Regions from separate parts of the Homo sapiens genome. Here region 2 is linked to region 1. The links come from fine-mapping of genetic effects on gene expression. Tissue or cell type: skeletal muscle. Region 1 holds a variant in brackets; the other region holds the start of a gene. All regions are shown on one strand. Distances are between the middles of the regions.

The links. PIP is the estimated chance that this variant, and not a neighbour inherited with it, causes the effect.
Region 2: PLD3 starts here. The variant in region 1 is fine-mapped to the expression of PLD3 in skeletal muscle (GTEx, PIP above 0.99).

The regions. Positions count from the first base shown.
Region 1 is chr19:40,776,937-40,781,094 of GRCh38, forward strand. It overlaps MIA (MIA SH3 domain containing), which reads left to right. Exons shown (of 4, transcript NM_006533.4): 3 at 33-143; 4 at 461-554. The coding sequence ends at 484. It overlaps RAB4B (RAB4B, member RAS oncogene family), which reads left to right and starts at 1,311. Exons shown (of 8, transcript NM_016154.5): 1 at 1,311-1,455; 2 at 3,083-3,163; 3 at 3,449-3,563. The coding sequence starts at 1,440. It overlaps MIA-RAB4B (MIA-RAB4B readthrough (NMD candidate)), which reads left to right. Exons shown (of 10, transcript NR_037775.1): 3 at 33-143; 4 at 3,083-3,163; 5 at 3,449-3,563. RAB4B-EGLN2 (RAB4B-EGLN2 readthrough (NMD candidate)) reads left to right here and starts at 1,283. Exons shown (of 12, transcript NR_037791.1): 1 at 1,283-1,455; 2 at 3,083-3,163; 3 at 3,449-3,563. RefSeq lists silencers at 445-574, 1,125-1,364 and enhancers at 1,425-1,494, 2,382-2,913. The variant C/T (reference allele first, on the strand shown) is at 2,533.
Region 2 is chr19:40,346,525-40,350,682 of GRCh38, forward strand. It overlaps PLD3 (phospholipase D family member 3), which reads left to right and starts at 2,171. Exons shown (of 13, transcript NM_012268.4): 1 at 2,171-2,244. It overlaps C19orf47 (chromosome 19 open reading frame 47), which reads right to left and starts at 1,873. Exons shown (of 9, transcript NM_001256441.2): 1 at 1,800-1,873. RefSeq lists a silencer at 1,748-1,837 and an enhancer at 1,828-2,117.

The DNA.
Region 1 (4,158 bases):
CCAGACCCTAGCTTTTAACTCCTCTTCCCCAGGTTCAGGGAGATTACTATGGAGATCTGGCTGCTCGCCTGGGCTATTTCCCCAGTAGCATTGTCCGAGAGGACCAGACCCTGAAACCTGGCAAAGTCGATGTGAAGACAGACGTGAGTGTCATGGGGGCTGGCAAGAAATGTGGGGGGAGGACCCTTAGGTTGTGGGGATGGGCAAAAATGCTCCCACACTTGGCTCCCTGGCAGCCTAGGTATGTGCGCTGGGAGAAATTCTTTCCCTGCCTCAATTTTCTCACCAGTAAAATGGGTCCAGTTGGGAGGTGCAAAGATTAGAGGGCTCTAGGCTAATTTGCATAGCACTTGTGTGGCCAGACCTGGGCCCTGCAGCTGCAGCCTTTGCTAAAACCACTAGATCCTTTGTGGTGTGACCGCTGGTTTTCTTTCCACTGTTTCCCCTTTCTCTTTTTCAGAAATGGGATTTCTACTGCCAGTGAGCTCAGCCTACCGCTGGCCCTGCCGTTTCCCCTCCTTGGCTTTATGCAAATACAATCAGCCCAGTGCAAACGGCTCGTCTCCGTGGTCTTTGGGGTGGGGTAGGGTAGGGTGGGGACTGTACAAATGAAATGTTTCTCTAGGTTGCTGAATCTAACCAATTAACCCGCTGCCTGTGGTAACGTCAGTGGTTGCTAGGCAGAGTTTCACTGATGAAAGCCCTGTGCAGTAGGAGCGCTCCTAAGCTTAGGTTTCGGACACAAGCAAAGGAAAACCTAAGCAGCCCAACTAGGGGATTGTAGTGTCCTCTCTAGACCAGTGGGAGGGAGCCAATCGGACTACGCGGAGGATATAAATCGCACAGTAAAGGTTTTCTTGGAAGATTATCTGGAAAGGGAGGTGGGAAGTAACCTGCGCCTATCTGCCCAGTTTTCCTCCTTTTCGCCTTTGAGAACAGTAATCGCTCCCGCCAGCTCAAGATCAGCTCCTCTTCCAGCCTCTTTCTGTCAATCCTGCCCGTGCCCCCTTCTTTGCATTTGTATCCCCTCCCCCAAGTCCGCTCCGATCCAATCCGGAGACTCGACTCTGCCCCCCGTACTCCAGACTAAATCCGTTCCTCGGCTCAGCTAAGCAGCTCTGCACGTCCCTTCCCACTTGCTCAGCCAATCGCTGGGCTCGGCCCCGCCCCTTTGGGCTTGGTCCTTCTCACGCCACCAATCCGCGCCTCTTGTCCCGCCCCCTGCCCGCGAGTCCGCCAATCCCGCCCTTCGGAAAGCGTCGCCTGGTATCCAGCTGCCGGAGCGGGTCGCGCCGGAGGGGGGCGGAGGCGGAAGTGGCGGTGCCGGGCCCGGGGAGTAGGAAGGAGCCGGGGCTGTAGCCGGAGTGGAGCGGCTGCCAGCCGAGGAGCAGGCGCGGCCGCGGCGCCATATTGCGGCCCTCAGCGGCCGCGACCGAGTCATGGCTGAGACCTACGGTGAGGGTGGTGGACGAAGCTGGGGTCCTGGGTCTGGGCCCAGGGAGGATGCGGCCTGTGGGAATGGGCGGGGCTTTGTAGATCAGGGGGCGGGGTCTGGTGTGATGGAGGCAGGACCTAAGTGGATGCTGGGAGGGGTTTAGTGGGTCTGAGGCTGAGCTTAATCGATTTAGGTGGAGCCTGAGGGTCTGGTGCGTGGGTTAAATAGATCTGGGGCGGGATTTGAGGGAGCTGGTCCTGAGGGGTTCAGGGAGGCCCTGAGGGAAGAGGTGGGCCTTAATGGATCTGGGCGGAGCCTGAGTGAAGGGGCGGGGCTGACTGCATGAATGGCAGGAGTCGGGCTTATGGGCTAGAGGGAACACTGAATGGAAGCTCGGGACCCTGGGGCTGATCTGGCTGGAGAGAGCTCTGGAATGGGTTTGGGGATGGGCTGTCCTTGAGTTAGGGGCAGGACTTAGTGGCAAAGGGTGGGACTTATGCATGAGAATGGAGCCGGGTTCTGGGCAGAGGGAGGGAAGGAGAGGTCGGGAAGTGGAAAATCAGTAGGGATGCACCATAGGAGGTGGTGATTGGAGGCAGGGGAAGTGCAGGTTTAGGAGTCAGAGGGAGCCGCATTCACTCAACAAATATAGAAGAGAAGGGAGAAGAGTGCAAAGACCCTGAGGTGAGAACCAGCTTGTCATTTTCAGGGAATAGACTGAAGGTCAGGAGCTATAGTGGAGTGAATGAGTCAGAGGGTGGTAGGAGGTGAAGAGGAACAAGGGCTATATCGTAGTCCTTGTTTAAATAGCTTTCAAGAGACTTTAGCGACAAAATAGCTAAGATCTGGGACTCTGGAGCCCTTGGCCTAGGTTTGAATCTCACTTCTGCCCAGCTGTGTCACTTTGGGCAAGTCAGTTAACCTTTCTGGCCTGTTACCTCATCCGGAAAATGGGAATAATTTTTAGTCTACCTCCCTCATAGAGTTTTCCTGAGGATGATGTGAGCTGTTGATGTGAGTAAAGACCTTTAGAACTGTTCCTGGCCCACAACAACACACAATTGACCCATGTAACAAACCTGCACATGTGGGCTGGG[C/T]GCGGTGGCTCATGCCTGTAATCCCAGCACTTTGGGAGGCTGAGGCAGGCGGATCACCTGAGGTCGGGAGTTTGAGACCAGCCTGACCAACATGGAGAAACCCCGTCTCTACTAAAAATACAGAATTAGCTGAGTGTGGTGGCGCATGCCTGTAATCCCAGCTACTCGGGAGGCTGAGGCAGGAGAATTGCTTGAACCTGGGAGGTGGAGGTTGCGGTGAGCCGAGATCGCGCCATTGCACTCCAGCCTGGGCAACGAAAAGTGAAACTCTGTCTCAAAAAAACAAAAACAACGACAAAAAAACCCCTGCACATGTACTCCCTGAATCTAAAATAAAAGTTGAAAAAAAATATATAGAATGTGCCTGGCACATGGCAAGTACTACATAAGAGTTATCTGTTACTGTTACCTATTGGTTTGTTTCTGCCTATGTCTGTTTCTCTCCCTCTAACTGTGATGGTTAGAGAGAGAGATTGGATTGGAATCCATCTTTTTTCCCTGTATCTTTCTCTCCCTGTGGGTATCCCTGATTTTGGCTCCATCTGGTCAGACTTCCTCTTCAAATTCCTGGTGATTGGCAGTGCAGGAACTGGCAAATCATGTCTCCTTCATCAGTTCATTGAGAATAAGTGTGAGTTTCCCGCAGTGGTCCTGGGAACCCTGAGCTGTGTTTATGCGCATGGTGTGGGCTGGTGGGCAGCCGGTGGGGAGGGCAGGGCTGGCCATAGGTACAAGTCCAGTGCTGGCTTTTTGGTCCTTGCTTTGTCGTATGTCCTTTACTAGGTTCTCCTTGACCTCAAGTCACTCCAGCAAGGAGAATGGGTTTGTAGAGACTGAGAGGGCCTTGGAGGATGGGGGATCCTCTGAGCTGTCTCCTCTCTCCCTGTACTGCCCCTTCTGTTCCTCCTACTCCCAGTCAAACAGGACTCCAACCACACAATCGGCGTGGAGTTTGGATCCCGGGTGGTCAACGTGGGTGGGAAGACTGTGAAGCTACAGATTTGGGACACGGCTGGCCAGGAGCGGTTTCGGTAGGTGGGCTGGGCTCCCAAGGGTGATGGGGAGAGAGAGTGAGAAGGAAAGAGAGAGATGTGTGTGTAGAGTCACTTGGAGACACTGAGAGGGCAGACAAGGCAGACAGAGAGAGATGAGACACCGTAGTTAGCAGGTATATATATCCAAGGAGAGAGGGAGTACTGGAGAGATAAAGAGATGGTGGAAGAAAAAGAGGTAGGGGCCAGGCGCAATGGCTCATGCCGGTAATCCCCGTGCTTTGGGAGGCCATGGTGGGAAGATTGCCTGAGCCCAGGAGTTTGAGACCAGCCTGGGCAACATAGTGAGACCCCATCTCAAAGAAAGAAAAAGAGATAGAGAAAAGTGGCTTGGGGGTGGGGAAAGGGATGGAGACTGAGAGACACCGAAACAGAAAGAGAAGGGGAAACTTGAGAGACTCACACTCAGAAAGGAAAAGAGCAAGAGAGACAGAGACTAAGAGAGTTGAAGAGAATGATAAGGGAGGTAAGGAGGCCTGGCACGGTGGCTTACACCTATAATCCCAGCACTGTGGGAGGCTGAGGCAGGTGGATCACTTGAAGTCAGGAGTTCAAGACCAGCCTGCCAATATGG
Region 2 (4,158 bases), 430 kb before region 1:
GAGGACCCTTTTTTTTTTTTGAGATGAAGTCCCACTCTGTCGCCCAGGCTGGAGTGCAGTGGCGTGATCTCGTCTCACTGCAACCTCTGCCTCCCAGGTTCAAGCAATTATCCTGCCTCAGCCTCCCAAGTAGCTGGGATTACAGGCCCCCACCACCATGCCCGGCTAATTTTCTGTAGTTTTAGTAGAGACGGGGTTTCACCGTGTTAGCCAGGATGGTCTCTATCTCCTGACCTCGTGATCCGCCCGTCTCGGCCTCCCAAAGTGCTAGGATTACAGGCGTGAGCCACCACGCCCAGCCAAGGACCCATTCTTAAAGGTGTTACAAGGATTAAACGAGTTAATAAACAGAGTCCTTAGAACAAAGATGCACGGCAGGTGGTTAAGTGCGATGTTAAGTGTGCATCAAATAAAACAAATCTTCAGTAAGCTAGGGAAACAGTGGGACAGTCACTGACTTAATGCTAGTTTTATACAAAGTGTGAGCTGGGAACAAGTATAAGGACAACTTAATGGGGGTCCATGGGATCTGACAACAGGGAATCACACAGTACAGGTTCTGAACAGTATCCCTATTCAAAGGGAATACGTAGTATTCCTTTTCAATTATCTTTCCATTTCAGTGTACAATGTAATGGGCTGTTCAGTTTCCATTGTATTTTACCTGAACTTTTCCTTCCTCTCATGGCCAGCAATGCTAGTTTTCCATTGAAGACAGCAATGCGCCGGGCACGGTGGCTCACACCTGTAATCCCAGCACTTTGGGAGGCAGAGGCGGGCAGATCACCTGAAGTCAGAAGTTCGAGACCAGCCTGACCAACATGCAGAAACCCCGTCTCTACTAAAATACAAAAAAAATTAGCCGGGCGTGGTGGCGCATGCCTGTAATCCCAGCTACTCGGAAGGTTGAGGCAGGAGAATCCCTTGAACCCAGGAAGCGGAGGTTGCGGTGAGACGAAATTGCACCATTGCACTCCAGCCTGGGCAACAAGAGCGAAACTCCGTCTCAAAGAAAAAAAAAAGAAGAAGACAGCAATGCAAATTTGCCTTCTCAAATTAACTTACTGGGGAAAAAAATGCACTAGTCATTATCAAGAAAAAGAAAAAAACTAGTACTTCAGGACTCAGCAAAATTGGTCAAATAGTAAGTGACAGGATGTCGATTTCCCCGGCTCCAATTCTAAGTTTTTCCTATTGCTGTCTCTGAGCTTTCTCCCCCAGCTTCCCTGGAATTCCCAGCTACACCAATGACTCTCAGAATCATTATCATTATAGTCCCAATCCACGAGCTCTCACTGTGCCAGCCCCTCTGCTTAAAATCTTTACACACACAGATTTCATCAGAATCCTCAAGACGACCCTATGATATTGGGACTATCTGCTCTCATTGTACAGATGAGAAAAAACGGGGTTCAAGGAAGCGAAGACACAGGCCCCACTGCCGCACAGTGGAGCGGGACTTGAACCAAAATTCGACGGCTTCCAAACCCAACAATTTTTCATACTAAGCGCTCAAACATCAATACTAATAATAATAGTATAGTAACGAAGTGAGCGTTATGCGGAGGCGCTGAGCTAAGGCATCCAACGTACACGACCTGACTTCTCACTCCCATTTATAAAGCCGGTGATACAGTCGGATTCTAACCCCCATTCCACAGGGGAGGAAACTGAGGCTCAAAGAAACAAATCGTAAGTCCGAAGCCGTACAACGGAGCCCGAACTGAGTCCAGACACCCGGACGCCACCCGTCCCTACCGCAACCGGCCCAGTCCCACCACCCCCGGCCCGCGCCTCACCTGGCCCACCGGGCCCGCGCCCACTCGCGCCGCCCGCCCTCCCTCCCGGCGGCGCCAACTGTCAGACACTCCTCCCCCGGCCCGGGCTGCCCGCCCCGGAAGCATCCTCTCACCGCCGGAAGCTGAACTGACTCGTCCGCGGCCGCTCTACCCCAACAGGCCGCCACCAGCGAGAGTGCGGCCATAACCATCACGTGACCGCCCACCGACACCAGCGAGAGTGCAGTCGTAACCGTCACGTGACCGCCCACCGTCGGCCCGGCGCTCCCCTCCGCCCGAAGCTAGCAAGCGGCGCGGCCAATGAGAAAGGCGCATGCCTGGCCCCCGCCGGCCTGCAGTCTAGCCGTAGTGCGCCTGCGCGCGGCTAGGAGGGGCCGTCAGGCGGGGATACAGCCTGGAAGGTGCGTGTGGGGCTGGGTCTCGGAGTGGGAGACGTGGAGTGCAGGTACTGTGCGATCTGGGGGCGCGGCGCCTCGGCTACCCTCCTCGTGTTGTCTTCCACGCTATAATGCATGGAATATAATATATATTATATGGAATATAATATATGGAATATAATATATATAATTATAGCGTTGTCTTCCACGCTATAATTTATGTCGTCCTCGGTCTCTTTATGTCACCATTCCTCTCCTTCTGTCTCATCCCACTTAAATCCTCACAACTCCTTCTGTCGCCATCACCCTCTTTAAATCCTCACAACTCCTCTTGTTGTCATCAACGCCCTTAACTCGCTTTCGTTCCCTGTAAGCCCTCTTTGCCACCATAGGTCGTAATCGCTCCCTTTAAATTCGTCATCGCCATATGTTACCTGCATCCTGCTTTTGTTGCCATTTCTCCTTTATAAAATCCTCATTTCTCTTTAAACCCTCATCATACCCCCAAGTCACCTTCGCATGGCTACTGTCCCCATCGCTCTTCTTAAATCGCGCTAATGCAACTCTTACGTCATCATTACCCCTTGTGTCTTTGTCCCTCCCTTGGCATCACTGTTCCTCTGACCAGTCACCATCCACTCCTCATGCTTCCAGTTTTCCCCATAAGGAGCCACCCAGCCTTACAGTTATTTTTCTTCCCTCCGTGTCTTCGTCATTTCCCCGTGTCACATCTCACATAACATACGGGGTACTGCAGCCCATTACCTGGGGTGTGTCAGAATCCCAGCCCCACCACTACACCTCTGGATACCTTGACTGCCTTATGGCACCTTTCCAATCCCAGCTTCATCTGCAAAATGCACACGGGGACATCCACATCAGGGCTGAGTGTGACGATTCTGTGAGTTTATTCTTGTGGTAGGCTCAGCTTGACATGGTGTTTTTGGCTAATATTGTTATTAACCATGTCACCCTCGGCCGGGTGCGGTGGCTCATGCCTGTAATCCCAGCACTTTAGGAGGCCAAGGTGGGCGGATCACCTGATGTCGGGAGTTCGAGACCAGCCTGATCAACATGGAGAAACCCCGTCTCTACTAAAAATACAAAATTAGCCGGGCGTGGTGGTGCATGCCTATAATCCCAGCTACTCGGGAGGCTGAGGCAGGAGAATGGCTTGAACCGGGGAGGTGGAGGTTGCAGTGAGCCGAGATCGCGCCATTGCACTCCAGCCTGGGCAACAAGAGCGAGACTCCGTCTCAAAAAAAAATAATAATAATAGGCCAGGCGCGGTGGCTCACGCCTGTAATCCCAGCACTTTGGGAGGCCGAGGCGGGCGGATCACCTCAGGTCGGAAGTTCGAGACCAGCCTGACCAACATGGAGAAACCCCATCTCTATTAAAAATACAAAATTAGCCAGGCATGGTGGCACATGCCTGTAATCCCAGCTACTCGGGAGGCTGAGACAGGAGAATCGTTCGAATCTGAGAGGCGGAGGTTGCAGTGAGCCTAGATCGTGCCATTGCACTGTAGCCTGGGCAACAAGAGCGAGACTCCGTCTCAAAAAAAAAAAAAAAAAAAAAAACTGCATGATCTTGGGCAACTAACTTAACCTCCCAGCGCCTCAGTTACTGCATCTGCAATATGGGAATGAAAACACAAATTAATCATTCTGCACATAATTCTTAAGCATGTACTATATATGTGCCCAACACTGCTAGACACTGGGGATACCTCAATGAACAATACAGACAAAAATATCTCGGCCTGGCGCAATGGCTCACACCTGTAATCCAAGCACTTTGGGAGGTGAAGTGGGTGGATCACCTGAGACCAGGAGTTTGAGACCAGCCTGGACAACATGGTGAAGCCCCATCTCTACTAAAAATGCAAAAATTAGCCAGGCATGGTGGCGCGCCCCTAAAATCTGAGCAACTCGGGAGGCTGAGGTGAGAGGATTGCTTGAACCCAGGAGGCGGAGGCT